Homo sapiens: one gene and its partners. The protein of the gene in region 2 interacts with the protein of the main gene of each other region in a pairwise test. Each region holds a gene or a part of one and is shown on either strand. Other genes may lie near its edges.

Evidence for each region. Proteins that work in one complex are often made in the same cells at the same time.
Region 1: the proteins of USP25 (region 2) and TGFBR2 interact in binary tests that used the Homo sapiens proteins (3 or more experiments, as listed by UniProt).
Region 3: the proteins of USP25 (region 2) and TMEM43 interact in binary tests that used the Homo sapiens proteins (3 or more experiments, as listed by UniProt).

The regions. Positions count from the first base shown.
Region 1 is NC_000003.12:30,609,601-30,617,278, reverse strand, and holds part of TGFBR2 (TGF-beta receptor type-2 isoform B precursor), read right to left. Parts: exon of another isoform or gene 2,619-7,678; coding exon of another isoform or gene 2,573-2,618; intron 1-2,572. UniProt on the Homo sapiens protein: Transmembrane serine/threonine kinase forming with the TGF-beta type I serine/threonine kinase receptor, TGFBR1, the non-promiscuous receptor for the TGF-beta cytokines TGFB1, TGFB2 and TGFB3.
Region 2 is NC_000021.9:15,872,371-15,880,726, forward strand, and holds the end of USP25 (ubiquitin carboxyl-terminal hydrolase 25), read left to right. Parts: intron 1-2,032; coding exon 2,033-2,156; intron 2,157-5,425; coding exon 5,426-5,621; intron 5,622-5,932; coding exon 5,933-6,105; 3' UTR 6,106-7,694; downstream 7,695-8,356. UniProt on the Homo sapiens protein: Deubiquitinating enzyme that hydrolyzes ubiquitin moieties conjugated to substrates and thus, functions in various biological processes including inflammation and immune response.
Region 3 is NC_000003.12:14,135,052-14,142,729, reverse strand, and holds part of TMEM43 (transmembrane protein 43), read right to left. Parts: intron 7,573-7,678; coding exon 7,498-7,572; intron 6,924-7,497; coding exon 6,822-6,923; intron 3,551-6,821; coding exon 3,433-3,550; intron 1,138-3,432; coding exon 935-1,137; 3' UTR 1-934. UniProt on the Homo sapiens protein: May have an important role in maintaining nuclear envelope structure by organizing protein complexes at the inner nuclear membrane. Required for retaining emerin at the inner nuclear membrane.

The DNA of each region.
Region 1 (7,678 bases), on a different chromosome or scaffold from region 2:
CAAGTGTCTGCAAACTCTACAGAAATGCAATTAGAGGTTGCGGCAGCTACTCCCCTGCCTAAAACAGCAGTCTGAAAACTGCCAATCTGTTGCAAATTCTGTCTTTTCTGAGAATATTTTAAGAAAAGTGGTAGAGAAATATTTGAAAGGCAACAGAACACTAATTATATCTAGACAAGTTTCCTTTTTTTTTTTTCCCAAAAAATATGAAAGTTCCTTTAGGCTTTACATCTCCTAGGCATAGCAAAGCATTTCATAACTTTCTACCTTAGGAAAAATTTTCACAGACATTTTAACCAATTCAGAGGAAGGGGAGAATGAAAATACCATAATTAACCAAAGAGGAATAATATTACCACCAAAACCAAGTAAGCCTTTTATTTAGGAAGGAGTGAGCTCTAGCTGAAGTAAACATGCTATTTAGTCAGGATGTATGCTCAGACACCTGTAGTCGGAAATTTTCAAAATAGCTATGGTTTTTTTTCTTCTCTTTTTTTAATAGTAGTCATCTCCAATGAACACCAGTGGAAGTCTGTGGTATTTCTCAGTTCTGACCTGTCATGACTTTTGTTAGTTTTCTATTTTGATTAGCTAAAGATTTTCTAACTCAACTTCAATGATTTATTCTACTAACAAAATAGTACAGGGATAACAAAGAATGAAATGTTTCAGAAGAGAAAATACTGGAAATCTTATTTAGTCCAATTCTTGTCACTGTATAGAAGGAAAATGAGCCCCAGTGGGAAGAAAGACAGCCTGGTCACCCAGACACCTAGATTCCTGGTACAACATACCTTAGTCTTTACCAGCTGTCTCCTAGGTAGAGTCCTTCTAATCTCAAACTAAGGGTCAGAGCTAGGTTATCTTTCATCCAAGATGAAGGTTTGTGATAATTACATCTTTGCAACTTCTTTTCTACTTGGCATGGGGCTCTAAAGTAGGAAAATGATGAAGGGTTTAGCTAAACCTGGAGGAAAAATATTTTGGTTTTGTGAAATAACAATGCAGATTTCAGTCTCTGTTTGCAATGGGGGGAAGGAGGAAGAGGCATTTTTTAACATTTATTTTCTAAACCAACAAACAAATCCTACCATTAGTCAAAGACTCAGGTCTTTGGAATCTGAAGCTTGTAAATTTCAGGGGCACTCTTTAAGAAGAAGAATACAAAATTAAGAATAAAGTGAATATAAAATTAAGAATAAAGTGAATATTTATTTAGAATTAAAATGGCATACAGGCCGGGTGCAGTGGCTTACACCTGTAATCCTAACACTTTGGGAGGCAGAGGTGGACAGGTTCCTCTGAGCCCCAGTGTTCAAGACCAGACTTGGTACATAGTAAGACACCATCTCTACAAAAATTAAAAAACAACAAAAAACAAAAAACTGGCCGGTCTTGGTGGTGCATGCCTTTAGTCCGAGCTACTCTAGAGGACTGCTTGAACCTAGGACTCCAAGGCTGCAGTGAGTTATGATTATGCAACTGCTTTCCAGACTGAGTGACAGAATGAGATCTCATCTCTGGAAAAAAAATTTTAAATAGTATCATACAAACAACAAATTTTTAAAAGCTATAAATACTACAAATATGAAGTGTTTAAAAAACAAATATTTTTATTAACTGATTGCCATACCTCTGAAATAATTCTCCTATATTTTTTGGTTGCACACTCTTTGATCATCTCTTCCAATAACATTTTGCAATATTCTCTATTGAGAGAATAGAAAAATAATTCAGTCTTCCCTTTAGAAATGTAGATCAGAATTTGTAATTTATTCTTGAATAATTTGGAAAAGTTCCTTTCAGCTTCATAATTCATTACAGGTAATGTCATATAAATTTTTTGGATTGACTTCAAATTTGGAAAACTTTTATCAGGTTTCTTTTATATGTGAGCTGTAAGATTCAGGGCACTGCAAGATTTCGTAGTATTTGACTTGATGACACTTGTTAACCACATTGCCAGGGCCTCTCCTAGAGCCAGGAGATGGACCTATACCAGGGTATAGGTAGCCTTGAAGGTTAAGTTCAAGCACTTCACAGTAAATCCACCTGAGCCTGGCATTTATATCCTCAACATATTTGATGCATCTGTGAAGTCTCCCAGTCCTTTCAAATAAAGTGCCTGTTTTACTCAGAATACCTAAACTTCCTGATGGCATAATTGTTCCATGATTCAGCCAAGACTGTATCACTTGAGGTATACACTTCATTTTTCCATTGAGATCACAAGACAGGCATGATGTTTGACTACCTGGTGTATAAACCGAGTGTTATTTTATTACACTAAGAAAATGCAATGGGATAATATATGAAGAATGCTAAAACACTAGAAAAATGTTGGATATTATTATTTCTCTTAACCTCTAGTCTTCCAACACCCATGCTATAATGGACAAGTAGTTTATGTCAATTAAGGCAGACTAGTCTCAGTACAGTATAACAATTAGGAATCTAGATCCCCAAACCAGACCATCTTGGTTCCAACCCCAGCCTAATCATTTTCTAACTAGGTGGACTTAGGCAAATTTATTGACTCTGGAGGATTTATAATAAGCATAATATAACCTACCTTCTAAAGTTGTTTTGAGGGTTAATACACCTGAAGTACTCAGCATGATCCGTGCAGTAGCAAGACCTCAATAAGTGGTAGCTACTATGATTATTGGGAAATTAGTCCATGAAGTCTCTTGAGAAAAGCTACAGGGGAAATAAGCCCAATTTCATTTCCCTATGTAGAAAAGTTTGCAGGATTTGGGCGTGACAGGTAGTCATCCACAAAGCAGCAGTGTTATCGCCCCATAGGAAATGAAGACTTCGTAATGATTTATACTTTAATAAAGAGCTGCTGCAGCATATACTGAAAATATGCACCCAACCCATATCTTCTTTCAAAGGCATTCATGTTGGTTCAACCAAATCCCTAGTTCTCTAAAATGAAGTTTTGACAATCTTATATCTTCTAAAGCACTGAGAAGCCTTTTTCCTTGTTTTCTTTAAAGAGGCTTGAGAAGAACCAAGCCTTTTTTTGGTTCAAATAAAATATTTACAATAGGAGGAAAAAACATTCAGATAAACTTCACCTTGCCCGCCTGGTGGTCTCTCAATACACAGAAGAAATGCAACTAGGGCACTAGGAAATCTAAAAAAAAAAAAAAAAAAAGGAAAGAAAAAAAGTATAGAGCTAAAGTTCACTTCAGGACAACGCAAACTAAGAAAAACTACATTTCCCAAAGGAAATAGAGCACTATGTCTACAAAGTAACTCATTTTTTCTTTAATGTTCAATGTTGTCTATTCCAGGGAAAAAATGGTACAATTAACCAAAACTTATTTCTACCCAACATCTCTGCAAAGGAATGTTGCTGCTGCAGATCCACCCCCAACATGGGAAGGCCCAAGGCAAGTGAGCAAATAGAGGCCCATGTACCATAAGTCAAAACATTTAAAGTTACAAATCAAGCTAGCAAACTGCTCAATAAAATAGGTGTTATCCTTCTACCTAGACTGACAAATATATCTTTTCAATGTCTTGGAAGACCAGGTACAACTTTAGAACTCCTACAATGTTCATAGTCCTTCCACAGAAATGGGTGGTTTAAAGAGAGACATCATCCTGAGCCCTGGTAATCAATTTGCCTTCCTCCCCCCTGCCTGCTCCATCCTACATCAAGAGGGGCCTTGTGATATGTGGACACCCAAGCTCGCTCTCTGTCTCTCTCTCTCTTTCTCTCTCTCTCTCTCTCTCTCTCTCACATACAGACACACACACACACAGAGCTATCCCTTAAACAACCCTCGTGCAGAGATTGCACAACCAGTAGCAATGACAGCCTTCAGGAAGATGGCTTCAAGGATCCATGCAAACTGCAGATACCAGTTCAGGGCCTTCTGGACAGCGAATGTGGGTTCCCACATAACCAAATCATGGTCTAAAAATGAAAAGAGAGTAAGACTGGAAGGCCCAAAAGTCACCTCACCCCATAGGCATGGCTCTGACCAGAGAAGAATGACAGCAGAGTACCATCTAAGGCCCAGGACAGAGGCCAGTTGTGTTCATATACTAGGTCTATATTTTAGTTGTAGAGCTGAAAAAAATTGGAGGAAAATATTCCCTCAGAAAAGAGAAGAAAAAAAAAAAAAAAAAAGAGCTGCATGTCTTGACCTTTCCCAGATAGAATCTCCCCAGTCATAGGTACGGGCCCTGAAGCTAAATCTCATCTAATAATGATAGCTTCAAACCTACAAACAAAACACAGATGCTAGGGAACCCTTAAGAGTCTAAGCAGGAGGCCATAAGTAGACTAAACTGACTACACCCAAGAGGATAGTTGCTACTTGTTGGGTGCTAAGACCTAGAAAGCTGACTGTGGCAAGTAAAAGGCAGAAGTACTCCTGATGTAATGGGTGAGGAAGAGAATCTTAACCTCCTATAAGTTTTCAAATTGTCCCCTTCAAAAGTCAAACTGTCCCCTTCTTCTTTGTTATGTTGGATAAAGTCGGCTCTTCTTGCCCTCATCAGCAGTTGTACACGATTGTACACAAATGATTGTCCTACACACTCAAAATTTGGGGTTTACAATACACATCTTTGCAAATGGGGTATGTCCAACTGCTATAAGTGGCCAAACCACAGGTCACCCACCATGAGTCCTACCACTAAGACACCATTGTCAAACTGTGGGCTGTAGAGTTTCCTTATGCAAAGAAACTCTGCCTTATCTTGATTTTCTGTGGTACAAATGTAGTCAGGAAGGAGGCAGATAATGCAAGCAAACCAAATCAATTAAATCAGGAGCACTGAACTGATGACATTAGATGGTAAGCTTCCCCTCTCTCAAATCTGATATCCATTCACCCCTCTTCAGCCTCCCTCCCAACACACGCATACACACATAGAGACCACACGAAAGAACCTAGCAGCATGCAAGCACAAGAAGCTTGGGCCACACACTCATACATGCACCCAGGCAAAACTCCAGAGAGACCCTGAGCAGGATCCATCTTTCCATCCATAAAATAAAGATAATAAAACTTATCTTGGAGATTTCTTCCTAGGATTAAATGAGATACATAATATCAAGTGGCTGTCTCAGGGTAGGTTCTCAAATGTTAATTGTCTTTCTCTTCCTTCTCCCTGAGATGAGACAATTTGCCTGTCCAGCATTCCAAACCCTTTGGCATGCCAAGCAAAGAAGTATGAGTCATTATCTTGCCTCAGTCACAAGCAACAAGTACCTGTGGAGCAAAATATTACCAGGAAAGTAGAGAGTGCAAAAGAAGCGGTGAGCATTCTTGCTGCGAATGCATATCTGTTCTACTGAAAATCATAACTTAAATCTGCTGAAGTTGTACATAAGGACCTGGAGGGTAGAAGCTAACAAGGTAACAGAGTTATGCTTTTATGTGGAACTTGGCCAAATAATGCCATGCTGTAGCCAGGAAGTATGTTTCCCCTGCACCCTATTTAAAACTGCTTTGGTGGTTTGCATCAGACCTAAATAATATCCACGCTACTCTAGAGTAGGCAGTGGTGGCTACAAGACCACACTTCCCTTCAACCAACGCTGCTTCACCCTTATAAACCAAAACATAAAACCCAATGAAAAAAGAAACTTAAAAAATAAATTTAGATTTTAGCACTTCATTCGTAATAAAATTCTCTTTCCGACACCCTTCTATGAAAAAAAAAAAAAAGAGGAATCAGTATCTACTGGATAATTCCTCTGGTGACTTTATTTAAAATTTTGCAGTGGCTTTCAAGGCCCTACACTGATTCAAAATTTATGGCTAAAGGAATTGCATGAAAACTTCTAGCAGCTTTCCATCATGTTTGTCAGAAGTTGAAACATCTTTTTCCATATTTCATGAGAATACAAGAACCAATTCCATACTTCAAAAACAGTCAAATTACTTATTGTGATCAGAACTAAAACTATTCTAACTGAAAGTAAAGATTTTACTATTTGGACCAAACACCTAACAAACAGTGACTGCTTAGTTAAATGCTCGACCTCAGTTGCATTAGATACAGTAGGATGAAGTGGAGGCTCAGCTCAGCACTTCCTGGGTGCTAAATGATGTGTCAGGCACTGCCAGAGATCCCAGAGATAGAAAACTGAATAAGATTGAGAGGATTAAAGGTATAATGGGCAAGAGAGTTACGTAAAGATATGACTTTGGCTTGGTATTGTTACCAGCTAAGTGAGAGGTCTGTATCTCATAGGAGACATTTACCTCAAACTGGGACATTCAAAGCAGGTTTCCTCAAGAAGATGACACTTGAACTACGTCTTAAAAGATGAGTGAAAATTAGCCAGGTAGCAGGAGTTCCAGACATCCTGAACAAAGGAACAGCTGCCTAAATTGCTCACATTGTGTGTATGTGTAGTGACACAAATAGACTGGGAAAATGTGGGCTGTGGTGGGATGTGAAGCAGCAGAGTCAAATGGGAACCAGGTCAGAGGCCCCTGGTAAGCCCAATTAAGGAGTTAATAGTAATAACAGAAGCTGATATTTATTGAGCATTTACTATGTTGCAGGCACCATGTTAAATACTTTAAAACAATATTTTATTTAATCCTCACCATAACTCCATAATCCTCATTTTACAAATGAGACCAGGGATGACTAGTAGGTAAAGCAACTACAACAGGCTACACAGCCAGTACATGGCAAGTGGGTCTGGAACCCAGGACGGCCTGATTCCAAAGTTTATACCCTACACTCTTCTACCACCAGCCTATCCTCAAAGAGAGCACTAAATGAACGCATTGGGTCCATCATGCTGGCTATGGAATGGAGAATGCAATTAAAGGCTGCCCAACTGGGGCTCCGTGACAAGGCAGGGATAGGAAAGAGACAACAAATTGATTCAAAAATACATTCAATGGGACCTAGAAGGAAACATTCAACATGCACATCCTCCTAGTGCATACAACAACAAAAAAAAATGAGGCTTTTGAAAATGAGGTGTAGAAAATAAAACACCAGTATTCCATAATGCTTTCAAATATAAACAGTTAAAACACGTATCCTTTTCTTTACTTATAACATGCTCCCAGCTGTTAAATTCAATGGCAAAGACCAGGTCTGTCTTATTCATCTGAGATGGTATCCCAGGTCTGAGCATCCTGCCTGGCAAGAGATACTCAATAAATATGGTTGAAAAGGTAGAAGAAAAAATGCCCAGTTTTTGCAATGATATCAGAGGTGCCTTATTGATCCAGAGTTAAAAACTAACCTTACTGAAAAAATTAAAAAGTCATGTTCATAACTGAGTAGAAAACATGTAGTAGTTATGTTGACTACATAGACAACAGTCATCATTAGGGAATGCTACATTGAAAAGAAGGCAATGAGTTCAAAATGTGATTAGTATTTTGTATAAATCATAACTCATTAAAAATAAGATGTTGAGTGGCCTAAAGGTGGAAATGTGTTTTTATGAGGCGGAAAAAAAGCACGAGTAGACTGAAGATCAGATTTGGGGCCTAATGATGTCTAGTCTCTTACCCTGACAAAATAAGCAGGTTATTAAAGTGATGTGAAGAACCTGATCACTATGACACTTTTACAAATTCTTTGTCCTCAATAAGAATCTATCTACTTCCAGGAACCTGAAAAGTCATATTTTTCAGACCTGAAGAGTTATTGTGCACTTTACAGTTTTCCCCAA
Region 2 (8,356 bases):
TAGAGAATTGGAACAAGGTCATGGTTTCAGAGCAATTCTCAAAGAGGTGACTCAGGTCTAGAAAGCCAGATGTCAGTGTCATTCAGGAGAGATCTTCTTAACAGGAAACTCAGTAGCTATAAAGGAAAAGATAGATGTGCTAGTTACTTATTAATTAACGAACTACTACAACTTAATGTTGTAAAACAACTTTTAATATTATCACTTCCTTCGTTTTTCATAAATAACATCTTTAACTGAGAATATGTTTATTAACCTAATATCATTTCAAAATAAAATGTTATACTTAATCTCAAAAACAAATTCCTAGAAAGCCGTTTTCAAAAAATGTATAAAATAGACCTATTTATCATGACACCTTCAGGTGTGTAATTTGATTTGCCATGAATGTATACATTAATTTTTAAATAATTTTACATTTAACATTTGGGATGTGGAATGGATTTATTTTGTATCTAAGTACATGAATTAAGTAATAAACAGTAATTATTGGCAGGAGCGTCTAGAGTTTAAAATTGTGTTTCTTTACAATATTTCATTTTTTAAAATATATTTTTCCATATTAATCTGTGAAAAAATATATTAATGAAAAACTGACGCAAAGGAAATATTTTAAAATAATATTTTTTATTTCAGTTATACAAATACTTGGCTAGATATAGTTTTTATTTTGACATGTTAGAAGGATAGTTTTGAGGTAAAAGTAATTCTTTATTAAATATTTTTTTCTTCCATTTTTGTTTTGTTTTGTATTTTTGAGTTGGGGTCTTGCTCTGTTGCGCAGGCTGGAATGCAGTGGTATGATCATGGCTCACTACAACCTCTTACCTTCTCAGCTCAAGAAGTCCTTCCTCCTCAGCCTCCTGAGTAGCTGGTACTACAGGCATGTACCACGATGCCCAGCTAATTTTTTTTTTTTTAATGTTTTTGTAGAGATGGGGGTGTCAACTATGTTGGCCAGGCAGGTCTTGAACTTCTGGCCTCAGCTGATCCTGTCACCACCACCTCCCAAAGTATTGGGATTACAGGCATGAGCGACTGTGCCTGGCCCCTTTTCTTCCCTTTTTAAAACCTAATTTGAATTTCATAATATCTAGACTTACATTAATATAACACATATGCCTAATTCTATCACTTCTTTTTTTTTTGAGACGGAGTTTTGCTCTTGTTGCCCAGGCTGGAGTGCAGTGGCGTGATCTCAGCTCACCTCACCCTCCACCTCCCGGGATTCTGCTACCTCAGCCTGCCGAGTAGCTGGGACTACAGGCATGTGTCACCATGCCCGGCTAATCTTGTATTTTTAGTAGAGGCGGGGTTTCTCCATGTTGGTCAGGCTGGTCTCGAACTCCCTACGTCAGGTGGTCCGTCTGCCTCAGCCTCCCAAAGTGCTGGGATTACAGGTGTGAGCCGCCGCACCCGGCCTCTATCAGCTTTTTTATGTTTGCAGGCTTTTTGTTTTTGCTTTATTCCACTAGGTTTCCCAGATTTAGAAGAAATCTTTCATTGTCCACTTCCTCTATTTCCTTTAGATATTCTTATTTCTATTTTTTTTTTACATTTTTCTCAGTAACTAAAACTGTCTGCACATAGAAAAGAACCTGTCTAAGTTGTCATTGAACAAACCAAATGATGTTTGTGATCATTTACTTCATATAAATGTGACATTGCGTTAAACAATTAGATTGTTGGCTTTCACATTAGCTCCAATTTTGAGTTTAAATGGAAGACATCAGGAAAATAAATACCAAGGAAAACAGAACTATCTGACTTTATCAGTTATTGCCTCTTTTCCCAGATTTTTTCTTAATTTATAGCTCTTCTTTTTTTACTTTTAAGATAACTATCTCTGGGTTTCAGATGTTGCTGTTGCTAAAAAGGCGCTCTCAAGCATACACTGCGTCAGATGATATTTTTTATTATAATGTAGATTATCAAAACTTAAGCATATACTTAAAATGTTTCATAATTATAGCTGACTTTGTTTCTACAAAGGTGAAATACTAATGTTATATGTTTCTTTTTAATTTTCAAGTTATATAGATTCCTTGCTGTTCCTCATCTGTGCTTATCAGAATAACAAAGAACTCTTGTCTAAAGGCTTATACAGAGGACATGATGAAGAATTGATATCACATTATAGAAGAGAATGTTTGCTAGTAAGTTGAATGCATATAGTATGATCTTATCATTTTGTCTGACATTGGGCAAGTTTTCCAGACTCATATATAAGTGATTGACTCCATAAACTCTGAGGGGATAAGAACATGATGATGTCTATAAACTGGTTCTAGTCCCTTCAGATGGAAAAGTACACTCAGTACTTTATTCTTTTCTCTTTATGAATCCCAAGTACTATAGGTGATAAATGAGAAATGTTCTTAAAATAGCATCAGTTTGTTTACATTTCTGTATTTAGATTTCGTCATCACACTACCACTCCTTTTTTTGGTGGGAGAGGAAGGGATGCATAGATAAGCCTTAAAAAATGTTTTATGTAAGTCTATAAGAATATGCAGGCTGGCGCAGCAGCTCATGCCTGTAATCCTAGCACTTTGGAAGGCTGAGGCTGGTGGATCACAAAGTCAGGAGATCGAGACCATCCTGGCCAACGTGGTGAAACCCCATCTCGACTAAAATACACAAACACAAAAATTAGCTGGATATGGTGGTGTGCGCCTGTAGTCTCAACTACTCAGGAGGCTGAGGCAGGGGAATCGCATGAACCTGGGAAGTGGAGGTTGCCTTGAGCCAAGATCGCGCCACTGCATTCCATCCTGGCAACCAGGTGACAGAGCAAGACTCTGTCTCAAAAAAACAAGAATATACATAGAATGTATTAGAGTAATTTGTTTAACTTAAAAAATTGAATTTTCAGGTACAAGAATAGTATAGCTGACTTTAAACATACATAGAACCAAAACCTGATGGTTCCTCTGAAACCTTCAAAAAATGGTATAATGTTTCTCATCATTTTTTGTAGTAACCCAGCCACATTTGGTTATTTGTTTTACATAGGAATTGAAATGAAACCTCGTCAAGATTACTTTAGTGTTCCTTTCAGATTTTTTCACGTTGTATATTTACAAAGTGTCAGGTTCTGAGGGATACAAACATGAGTAAGATGTACTTCCTGTCCTCAGAAAACTCAGTCTGGTAGGAGACATAATTGTTTGTTCTGGAATAAGTGCCATTATGAGAAATATGCACAATGATATGCCTGAAATATTTGGGAAGAACCTTAAGAGACAAGGTAAACCTCGTCTGGATCTTGATGGATAAATAGAAGTTTTATTCATGATAGAGAAGGGAGAATATTCCAGTACACAACAGAAAATCAAGATAAATTCACTGTGGCTATCCAGGTTATGAGGAAGTGGGGTAAGGTGGAAGTGATGAAGCTGACAATACTTGTCGATGTCAGATGATGAAGAAACTTAGATGACATTCAAATGAGTTTGCACCAGTGTAAGTTTGATTAGGTTTGGCATAATGAGGTTTGTTTTCAGAAAATAATTCTGGTAATAATAATAGCATTCTAGAGGATGAACAGGAAAGAAGTAGATTGAAGTCAAGAACCTTAGAGGGGAAAGTCAAGGGACGGAGAGTGAGGACCTCAACTCATGTAGTACGGTAGGTATGATGGTGAAGGAAATGAAATCGGCATGTCATAGCTGTTGGGTGAGTGGGAAGAAGGAAATGGAAGAGTCAAAGCTGCCAAACTTACTAGTTTTTCGTTTAATATTAGGGAGTCTAATAGGAGGAACAAGGTTGGCTTTGAACATGTTTTATTTAAGAGATTTCCAGGACATTCTTTGATTCAGTGAACTTAACATTAAACTTGTCATTAAATTTTATATATCATTTAATGCATACTTCCAAAAATTGTAGTAAATACTTGAAGATTTATCTCATTTTATTCTCTTAACCCCTATGGTTGGAAGATAAAATACCCTATTATTAATATAAAGAAAGTGAAGCTAACAGATTTAGCTAATCTGTTCACGATTGGTGTATTAGTCCGTTCTCACACTGCTATAAAGATACTACACAAGACTGGGTAATTTATAAAGGAAAGAGGTTTAACTGACTCACAGTTCCACATGGTTGGGGAGGCCTCAGGAAACTTAAAATGATGGCGGAAGGTGAAGGGGAAGCAAGGACCTTCATCACATGGTGGCAGGAGAGAGAAGTGCAAGCAGAGGAAATGCCAGATGCTTATGAAACCATCAGATCTCATGAGACTCACTCCCTGTCACAAGAACAGCACTGGGGAAACTGTCCCTATGATCTGATCACCTCCCACCAGGTCTCTTCCTCAACACCTGGGGGTTACAATTCAAGATAAGATTTGGGTGGAGACACAAAGCCTAACCATATCAATTGGGTAATTGATTCATGGCCAAGTTGGACTTAATAGCACAACCATCTTTCCAAAATCAAAATAAATTGCATAAGAATTATGTGGTGTAAATCTAAATATATAACTTTTTTTATTTGAAATTCAGCTTAAAAGTCATGTTTATCATGCTGTAAACATAAGATTTTAAATAAGAACCCTTAAATATTATAGGTCTTATACCTGTATTTATCTCTTATGTTTCTTATTGCATGGATTTCTCTGTTCTACTAGATCAGTGATCAGCACACTATGGCTTGTGCTCCACCTACCACTTGTTTTTATAGATAAGTTTTATTGAAACATAGCCATGCACATTCATTTATATATTGGGTATTATTGTCTTTGTACTACAATGGCAGAGTTGAATAGTTGCAACAGAAACTTCATGGCCTTCAAAGCCTATAATAGTCCTCGTCTGGCCCTTCACAGAAAAAGTTTGCCAATCCTTGTACCAAATTGTAAGCTCCATGAGAGTTTTCTGTATTAATCACTTGAGTGCCCCTGCATCTGCAGAAATTTCTGGCACGTGGTGTTGACTCTGTAGGAAGTTTTTGAAGGGAAAAGTGAATTGATTACCTTTATATTTCTGTATCAAGGAATACAATAGTATATATTCAGTTGCCATTAATGGAGATGAGTTTTTCAAAAATTAATATGGATTCTGAATTTCTTTATTTTTAAAACTATTTTGAGTGCTTATACAATTTTATAATTTGGGGAAGTTAATCTCTAGAGAAGAAAAAATGGCCCCTGTGTTGATGATCGGCATAAGCCAAACATGACTGAAAAACACAATAATGTTTTCTCCACCGCTGTTGCTTTTGTTTCTGTTGTTGCCATATGCATAGCTTTTTCTAAAGAGAGATTTTCAGTTCTAGATAGGTTGAGATTGTTTTCTCTAAATACCGTTTGTTCTAATACTGTTTGTGAACATATTTATGTTGTCTTCCTTATTAATACTTACAGATCCTTAATTTAAAAAGGAAACAAAAACCTATTCTTTTTTTTTTCCTGCATTGCATTAAGAAATTAAATGAGCAAGCCGCAGAACTCTTCGAATCTGGAGAGGATCGAGAAGTAAACAATGGTTTGATTATCATGAATGAGTTTATTGTCCCATTTTTGCCATTATTACTGGTGGATGAAATGGAAGAAAAGGATATACTAGCTGTAGAAGATATGAGAAATCGATGGTGTTCCTACCTTGGTCAAGAAATGGAACGTAAGTTTAAACAATGGTAGTAGGCACCTGAGATGTCCGGATTAAATGCAGTTAGAATTAGATGTTATTTATTCTTGCCATTTTTTATATTAAATACAATATTAAGTATTAATATTTTCACATTCACATGATTACTCTTTTTCCATATTGATGAACTAAGCTGTGTGCATTGCAGTTGCCATTTATGTTTTTGTCTCCCCAAAATGGCAATTATCTTACCTATTAGAGTAAGTTAATATTAGTAAATCATGTTGACAATGATCGTGTAATAATTTCTATCTTTAGTTAGATTTAATTGTTTGTATTTGCAGCACACCTCCAAGAAAAGCTGACAGATTTTTTGCCAAAACTGCTTGATTGTTCTATGGAGATTAAAAGTTTCCATGAGCCACCGAAGTTACCTTCATATTCCACGCATGAACTCTGTGAGCGATTTGCCCGAATCATGTTGTCCCTCAGTCGAACTCCTGCTGATGGAAGATAAACTGCACACTTTCCCTGAACACACTGTATAAACTCTTTTTAGTTCTTAACCCTTGCCTTCCTGTCACAGGGTTTGCTTGTTGCTGCTATAGTTTTTAACTTTTTTTTATTTTAATAACTGCAAAAGACAAAATGACTATACAGACTTTAGTCAGACTGCAGACAATAAAGCTGAAAATCGCATGGCGCTCAGACATTTTAACCGGAACTGATGTATAATCACAAATCTAATTGATTTTATTATGGCAAAACTATGCTTTTGCCACCTTCCTGTTGCAGTATTACTTTGCTTTTATCTTTTCTTTCTCAACAGCTTTCCATTCAGTCTGGATCCTTCCATGACTACAGCCATTTAAGTGTTCAGCACTGTGTACGATACATAATATTTGGTAGCTTGTAAATGAAATAAAGAATAAAGTTTTATTTATGGCTACCTATGTGTTTGTAAGCAGGTATATTGTATATTAGTGTATTAGTAATACTAGATAAATGAATTTTGTCTGGGGATTAAGATTGGATAGTTAATAGATTAATACAATCTTTTAATTCTGCTCTAATGCTAGCAAATTGGAAAATGTTTAAGTCTTTGACACTTAAATTTATCTATATTTTTAACAAAGTTCTTGAACTTAGTATGGCACCGGAACCTGTTTTGAATTCAGTCAGGTTTTTACTCAAGTAAGTGGTTGATTTTTTTTAAGTCAAACTACACTGAAACTTTTATCCTTTTCTTAGATTAATCTTACTTTTTAAATGTATTTACAATATACAGCAAGGTGATTATTTCAAGAGAATCCCAAAGTACTTGAATAAGGGCTATTGTAAAATTTAAAAGAAATATTTATATATACACATATATACACATACACACATGTATATATATATTCTTCATAATGGAGGACAATGTTTTGCAATATATAAATCATTCTATTTTTGTAAATTGTATATCACTTTAATTGAAAATGTTCTCTACTAATTAATACTGTGAAACAAAATTGATGTTGTTTAACTAGAAGTTATGAGTATCTTAACTGCCTTTATTCCTTTTCAAAAAGGAAAAAGCTGTAGAACATTTTGTAGATGAAACTACTGTTTAAGATTAATGAATTAATATTGTGAATGAAAATCAAAATCCATACTTTAAAGGTAATCATGTTACTAACAACCTATTTTTGAATTCATAAAAATTTCTTTATAAATGATGTTTTGTGAACATAGTAAAATAGACCATTATACTATGTGTATGTTTGATACAGCGTCGCCAAAACTAGTGTTCTTTATTAGTGCCTCTCACAAAAGATCCTGGATGGAGGAGTAAGATGAAATATTATGCTATTATATGATGCTGTTTGTAAAGGTATTAATGTACTAGTAAGGTGTTAATGACAAGGAATTAGTACTATTCCTGTTGTAAAGTTAGATTTTGCATATTGTATCTATCAAAATATGTTTGGGTTTAGATTTTAAGTTGTCTACTGAGCAGATTTCTGCATTGGTTTTCCAGTCCTGTTAAAAGTTTAGAAACTTCATATGTGTCATCACAGCTTTTGTAAAGAAAGTATCCTTAATATTTTATGACATTCTACCACAGTGGTAAAGTTGTTTGTGTTTGTGTATAATTGACTGCTGAGATACAAAGTGCCCAAACACTATATGGAAATTATTCCTTCAAAGTCACATCCAGAGAATCATGTCACTCTTGTGCTGAAGGTAAGTATTATAATTGTATTTACTATGTACTTAAAAACCAGATTATTTATTCCTAGTAATGAATTTGAAATAACTTATTTAAAGAAAAGTGACCTTTTTCAAGACCTACAGAAACAACTTATTTTAATATTGGTTTTTAATCTAATTGTAAGGTTTAGATCATTGAAATTTCTTTTTTTTTTTTTTTTTAAATTTCCAACTTTTAAGTTCAGGGGTCCATGTGCAGGACATGCAGGTTTCTTACAGAGGTACATGTGTGTCATGGTGGTTTGCTGCACAAATCATCCCATCACCCAGGTATTAACCCCAGCATCCACTAGCTATTCTAACTGATCCTCTTCCTCCTCCCAGCCCCCACCCTCTGCCAGACACCAGTGTGTGTTGTTCCTTCCACCATTGAGTCCAATATGTTCTTATCGTTTAGCTCCCGCTTATGAGAACATGCAGTAGTTGGTTTTCTGTTCCTATGTTAGTTTGTTCAGGATAATGATCTCCAGCTTCATCTGTGTCCCTGCAAAGGACATGATCCCATTCCTTTTTAT
Region 3 (7,678 bases), on a different chromosome or scaffold from region 2:
AAAAGCATCCATTGTAAAGCTTCTCAGTGACACAAAATACTGAGAGGTAACTTTTTATCAATCAAACCACATACCCCAATTTAACACCTTTCAGTGCTCTGAATTCAACTGACAGACTAAAGGGTGTTTCCTGTAACAGTCTGAAATATTAAGTGTTTTTTTTGTTTTGTTTTTAAATCTTATTTCAGAAAACTTCCTCTTGGGGTAGGAAAGTACACATGAAGCAGCAAAGTAACGAAGAAAAACTTAAATAGGGCCTTCAGAGATCCCACACACTACAAAGATTCTGCCAAGCCATAAGATAAGTGTGAAGCCCAGTATATGTCCAGCTTTTCTCCTCAGGACATCTTCAGTGTTTCTTCTCTTTTAAACACCACATCAGGTTCTAGCCACAGACTTGTGTTTTGGGTGTGCCTGCTTTGAGGGGTCCATGCCCAGTGTGTCTGCTGGTGACCCAGGACTCAGCAGTAATGACTAACGGCCGCCCTTCAGGATCACAGATGTGCTTGGTGGTGGTGGCAAAGCATGGCACTTGTGTGCAGTGATGAGAAGCAGCACACGGCAAGGCTGAGCCCTTTATCAGCAGGCCTCCGTAGAGCGTGTCTGCGTTGTCAGCTGCCAATGGGCTGAGTGGCTGGCCGTACCCACTCAGTCCAAGAGAGGAAGGAAACAGCAGGAGAAGCTGTCAGCTTGCCATTCATGAGCTGCTGCTGCCCACCAAAGCTGCTTACTGGCAAGAAGAGATGTGGGGAAGACATGAGCTGGTGAACACCAACCTGGTGCACATGCTGCCAAGTCTGGCCCCTGAAGAGGAGAGGGAGTGCAGAGTCCAAAATTGACCGGGGCTCCTGCTCTGGCATGGAGCTGGGTCAGAGGTGAGAGAGGACCTGGATCCTAGGGCTCACGCAGGTGTCGGGCGGGTGCCAGGGTCTTTTCACTCCAACTTTTTGGCTGGCACCCGTGTCCGAGCAACAAGGATGGGCACAAGGGCCAGGCCGGCAATGAGGAGGGCCCACAGGGGTCGGTAGAAGAGCCAGCCAGCCGCCACGGTCAGCAGGGTCAGCGAGGTGGCCACACAGAAGGCAAAGGCTTTCAGGCCAATGTTGACCAGGTCTCGGAAAACAGGAAACCAGTCCACTGTGGAAAGGAGAAAGGTGATGAGGTGCCACCTGCTCTACACCTCACCAGCTCAGCAGATCTCTCCTGTCCCTAGATGAGGATGGGCCCATGTTGCTACATGCATGAGGAGGGGAGAGGATCAGTGGGTGGAAGGCAAGGAGCTTCGTTCTGAAAGCTAAGGGAGCACAGGAGCCTCTGCTATGAGCTGCGTGGTTGGGCACATTGCCTAAGCCACCCACTCTACCCTGATCCAGGGGAGAGGATGTAGCAGTGCTTTGTAAACTTTAATACTTTATGTGGAGAGTAGTCTGAGGCCAGTATAAAGACATTTGCCTGTAATGCTAGAAATAACCTGGGTCCTGCACACTCATACAAGAGGCTGTGGGTGGAGCCTCCTGAAGGTGCCTATTTGGGCCTCTCAGCCATTCCTAGAGGTGTTGGTTCATTCATGCAGCAGGCTGTTACTAATGATTTATGTGCCCAGCACTGAACCAGCAGGTGCTAGAGGAAATAAATTAGCCTAAGCATTGGCCTCTCCTCAAGAATCTCACAGACTATTGGTCCAATAGGATAAAGCCCAGAATCCAGCTAAATTCATGAGGAATTACCCTATTCTTGCCTTGTGTGACCTCTCCAGGTTGGCATTCCATAGCTGATGTCCACTCAGGGAATCTTCGCTCAGTTCCCAGGAGGCCACCAATGGTCTGGAATCACTGGGTTTGCAGAGCAAGCCCTGGTGCCCCACCATGCCTGCAGCACACCCTGCAAGCCACTACCTGGCCTCATCCTGATCTGTTCCCATACAGCACTGCTACTCAGCCCTTATAATAAGCAAAGTTCATGTTTCTGAACGTTGCCTGTGTTAGGCACCATGTGCACCATCTCATGAAGCACTCATGCCCACCCTGTAAGGTAGGTACTCTTCTTAACTCCATTTTACCCACAGGGTCACTGAGACTCAGGGAATTAAGAAACTCACCACCAGTCCTCCTGTTAGAAAGTGCCAGAACCAGGATTTGAACTCAAGACCGTATGGGCCCAGAGCCTGGGCTCTGAGCTGTTGCTCTAAGTCTTGTCTGTCTCTAGCTGTGGAGTCTTACACACGTTGGTATTTATCAAACGCATGGGGAACTGTGTGCTTCCCTGCTGCGCTCCCAACTCTCCCCACCCACCCTGGGGGTCCCTCCACACTCTAAGTCTGTCCTGAGTCTGGCGCATTCCAGACGTAGAGTGAATTGGGATCACAGACATCAGAGATCCAAAGAAGGGCCCACTGAGACAGACACGAGGAAACCAAGGCTCCAGAAGGGAACTGGTCTCCCCAGGGTCACACAGGCAAGAAAGAGGATTCCGTTTAAATGCTCATCTCTCGCTAATGTGCCCACCACGTCACTGGTCTTTCTGAGCACAATTCAGCTGTCCAAAGAAAGGCTCAGGGAGAGTCCTTCCCTTCCCGGGCCTGTTTTCCCAACTGTAAACAAAGGAGGTGGTCCCCCCAGCTCAGACAGCCCAAGATGTGCAGCCAGACCTCTTCTGACTTGTGCATGCTGAGTGGGGAAGAGGTTTCTGTTGGCACCCAGAGAAGACTGATGCAATCATGTGACTGGAAGGGACACACACCAGGGAAAGGCTTGGATGGAGAGTCCTCCGAGGAACCCCATCCTCCTGGGCCCAGAACGCACTTAGTCACCCTGGGCACTCAGATCCCGAACCACGCTGGGCCACAGGTCTCCTACTGGGCTCACTGGTGCCAACCTCAGGTCAAGGAGTGGCCCAGAACTCTCCTTCATGCTCCAGACTTGCTGGCTGCCCAAATCTAGCCCAGGTTTTGGAGTGAGGAAGGAAGCATGAGAGTTTTGGGTGTTTCCTATTTGCCACATTTCATAAAACTCTGCATGTAAGGGGTGAGGTGACTGAAGCTGAGATGGGAAGGGAACGGCCAAGCATCCAGAGCTTGGACGTGACAGATTTCAAATGCAGGTCTGGCAGGCTCCCATGTGGTATTCAATTGTGGATCAAAGGAATGAGCAAATGATCGAGCCAGCAGATGGACGAACCTTCAGGCTGTGGAGTGAGACCAGTGCCCCAGAGTTGGCCCCACCCAGCCTGGCCCCTGGCAGCTCCTGCCCTCAAGCCTGCCTTCCTCTGCTCCCTCATCCCAAGGCTATGGAGCGGGGACACAGAGATGAGCCAAATGCCTGGTATCTGCACAAGGGCCATCCCATCAGGCTGGAAGGGCTGAGATGATGCGACAGGCAGAGGAGGCCCTTTCAGGGTGCAGGAGGGAGGGCAGTGACCCACCCCAACACCTACCCAAGGTGTAGAGGATCCGTGTCATAAGGTTGAGGCCCATGAACATGGCCATCCAGCCAGCTGCCCGCAGGCCCCAGGTCTTCATGGAGTTGCTCCTTAGTTCTCTATGAAACACCTCCTGCAGGACAAGGTGGGGGCAGGTCAGGATGCTGAGGGCCAGTGGCGTACCCAGTCGGCAGGGCAGGTCCTGAGGGGGCTGTACCAACTCGGGAGCTGTTGGCCATTTCTGAACAGGCCAGACGGAGTGGGGGCAAGCCTCCTATAGGGCTAAGTCCTTCTGCCCATCTGGCAGAGCACAGGGCAAGGCATGAGATCTCTGTGGAACGTACGGGCCTTCCTCAGCTCAGAGCCTGCCAGCACCTGGAGCCCTCAGCCCACGGTCTCACCTGGAATGAGCAGGACCCTGCCCACCACCCCTGAGCAGGTTGGAGGATGTCTGCTGGGCAGCATGCTCTGCGCTATGTGTGTGATCTGTTTAATCTCAGAACCTCTCCACATGGCTTGGGGACACTGCACCCTCCTTCTCAGGCTCCATCGCTGTCGCTGCCCCTCTTCCTGTCCATTAGATGCTGCAATTCTTTAGCTGCTTCAGTCCATACTCTCTCCCCGGACATCCCATCTGCTTCCTTGGCCTCCACATGCCGTGACCCTCCAATTTAAAGCTGCAGCTCTGGCCCTCTCCCGGGCCTCACAGCCCTGCAGCTCCCACCACCTCCACCACCTCCTTGACATTTCCACTTGACATCTCAGCCTGTCTAGTGCTGACACTGGCGCCTTCTCCATCTCAGCACATGGCACACCCACCCACCCACTCACATCTATGGGAAAGACATGGCTCGCTCCTCCCCTACCACCCCATCCAGTCCAGGCCACATATTCCCGAGTCTCTTACCACTGTCTGCCCGCAGGAGCCTCACTGGCCCTGCTTCTATCACCCACTCTGTGTTCTCCACACAGTCACCTGCCAGAGCCCTGCCACACCCCCCGGACACCGACCCTGCTGCCAGTGCCCTGACCCTGCTGGCTGCTGTCCCCAGTCCAGGTCAAGTGTCCTCTCGCCTGTGTATCTGCGCGTGGGTTTGCTCTGCCTACAACGATTGCCTGCAGTCATGCCTGGCCAGCTTCCTACATATTCTTTTGAGCTTTGCTTGAACCCCATTTCTTCAGAGGGCTTTCCCTGACCCTCTGATCTGAATCGGGCCCTCTCTCAGAGTCCGTAACAACAAAAACAGGTCACATTTATCACTCACCATTTATTTGATACTGTCCTAAGTGTTTTACAAGTATTATTTAATTCTCAAATTCACTCAGTGAGGTAGGAATACTTACCTCCACTTTACAGATGATGAAACTGAGGCTCTGAGAGAATAAGTCATGTGCCCAAGGTCTCACCTCAAGCAGTTAACTAAACGCTACATTTCCAAGAGCAGGGAGCATGTCTGTGAAGTACCTGGTGTTCAATGAAAACTTGCTGAATGAATGAATAATCCTCAATGACCAAACCAGTTAGGGATGATGTGACTATTACTAATAGTACTTAAACATCTTCCCCTTCACAAATGAGGAAACAGGCTGAGAGATCAGCACCAGCTCAAGGTCCTGTAGCAGGTGGGAGGCAGTGCCAGGGCCGTCTGCAGTGTGCCTGCTTGGGCAGCTGTACTCTCCTGCCCCTGGGACTGGAATCGGGGCATCCTGACTTTTGCCCTGAGCTGCCTGCCTGGCTCTGGGCCTTTTTTCTACTTGGCAGAGACCCCAGACCTTGTGTGGGGGTGGGGGCTGGGCTGGGGGAAGACAGGGCTTTGGGGCTGCTAAGCAGCAGGAGACCCAGGGGGTAAGGAGGCCGCCTGAGCATCTGCACTGCAGGGCCTTCCTTTCTGGGGCATTACCTAAGCCATGGGCCCCATCCACTCCTCTCTGGAGGGGCGGCTGCGTGAGCTGGGCCTCAGCCCTGGGAGAGAGAGCAAGGCCTGGACTGGGCCTCCTAATTTTAGAAACTCGCTGGGGACCCTCAGCTGCTGGTGGAAGGGTGACTCATGGCCTTCTAGGCTGGGAGGTGGCAGCCCTACCCTGAGGTTGGTAACTGGGCTCCTGGGCAACAGCCTGACCACACCCTAGCCCTGGCCAGGTACCAGGAGTTGGTGAGGCCCAAGCACCACCACAAGCTGGAGGCTAATGGGACAGATGGCTGCTGAGGATCTAATAATAGGAACAAAAGGTCACAGCTAACCCCTGATGCCTGTCTGCTGCCTTGACCCTTTCTGGCCACTCTGGAATGAAAACCCCAGCAGTCCTGGTTAGGGCAGGTATAGAGTGCCCCACCAGGGATACCTGTGTTCATCAACAACAGAAAAACTAAAGACTCAATTCTTCTGCTGCAGAGAAGGATTGCCTGCCTAGAGAAGACAGGCTAACTTTTAAGGCACAGAACTGAACTAATCAGCACATCTTGGCACCCCTTCTCCTTGGGACCCGGGGTAGGCATAGCCCTCCCTATTTACAATGGGAGAGGGATACTCAGGTAGCTGAGGCCCAAAACCCTTCCCCGCCCTCCTAATGTTCTGGAAGGACACAGACTTTGGTGGAGCCCCCCCACCCACTCCCTCTCCCCGCTCTGGGCTGTGGCCACAGCACTCCGGGTGCCCCCTTAGAAGGTGAACCCTTTCGTGCCCAGACTGGGCTGTTCTTGCTGGAACTGACTGATCACTGATTCTTCTAGGGTTAACCCCTTCTCGTCAGCAAAACTCACTTGTCAGAGGCCCTGCTTGATCACTGCAGAAACGGATGTTCTACTCTGACGTCCACTGGTATCAGAGCACCTGTTCTCCTCTTTCCAACACTCGGCACGATGCATCAGTACTTACGAGTTTCTGTCACTCTCACTCCTCTACCGGACAGTCTGTGAGGCACAGTGAGTTTAGTGCCTAGCACAGTCCTGCACACTGAGGGTTCATGACAGACTCAGCATCCACAATCCAAAAACCCAAATGCTGAAGTGCTCCAAAATCCAAAACTTTCTGAATGCCAACATGACGCCACTAGTGGAAATCCCACACTTGACCCCATGTGACGGGTTGCATTGTATAAAATCACCTTCAGGCGATGTGTACAAAGTATACATGAAACATAAATAGATTCTGTGTTTAGACTTGGTTCTCATCCCCAAGAGATCTCATTATGTATATACAAATACCTGCAAATCCAAAAAAATCTGGAATCTGAAACACTCCTGGTCAAACACTTTGATGAGGCATACTCAACATTCCGCTATTTCTTCTTCTTGCCTCATTCACTGGCTATGACCCCTGGTAGTGTGATCTTATTAAATAACCACTGGAAGGAAGGAAGGACATGCTTGTTCCTCCACCGTACGAGTAGGGCACAGCACTCACCTCTGCTGAGAAGTCCCCGTGGTGCAGGAGCAGTAAGGTATCCCCAGACTTGGTGGAGAATGGGACTAGCTGGTCACCCCGCTGCCGGGCAATCACAGTGACCTGGTCAGAGGACCTGGTGTTAGAGCTGAGGGGTGACCAGCGGGAGACACGCCCACGAGAGCCATGGCCCACCCTCCCGGGACTGGGTGCCGGCTGGGGAAGTGAGCACAGAAACCCTGGGGCTTCTCTCTCTATACATCCATCTGGGATGCATCCACCTCTGCAGCTCTGGCTGAGCTGCTCCATTCAAAGCTCCAGGCATTCAAAGCTCTTGGGCAGTGCGCAGAGCAGGGGATGGGGCAGGACTGCACATAGGCCAGGAACGCAAGACCAATTATTGACAGATCAAAACGGGCTTGGGGAGAGGGTCTGTGTGTGACTGGAACACCTGTCATAAGGTGCGACTATGAGACCCCTTTTGAGCTGCCCTTCTTAACGTGGGGTCCATGGATGGCTGTGGGGACATGGGAGCTCTGAAACTGCTCAGAAGCGTGCCTGGCTGAGAGTGTGTGCGAGAGTGTGCCTTTCCCCAGGGAAAAGGGGGTCCAAGCGCTCCTGACATTGACCAAGGTGTCTGTGTCCAGGAAAGTCGTGAGGCTCTGACTTAGTGTCTGCCCCTGGGAAGCCAGGTTACCACGTGAGCTGGGCCCAGGTCAGGGTCATCGCCGCTCAGTCCAGCATAGGAAAAGGAGACACGCAAGTCTCCCACCTGGGGGTGGAAGAGAAGCAGGGAGAGTGAGGAACGGAGTAGCTGGCCCAGGCCCAGGTCCAGGATGCCTCGGCTACGCCCCTCAGGCTCTTCTCCCACCTCCACA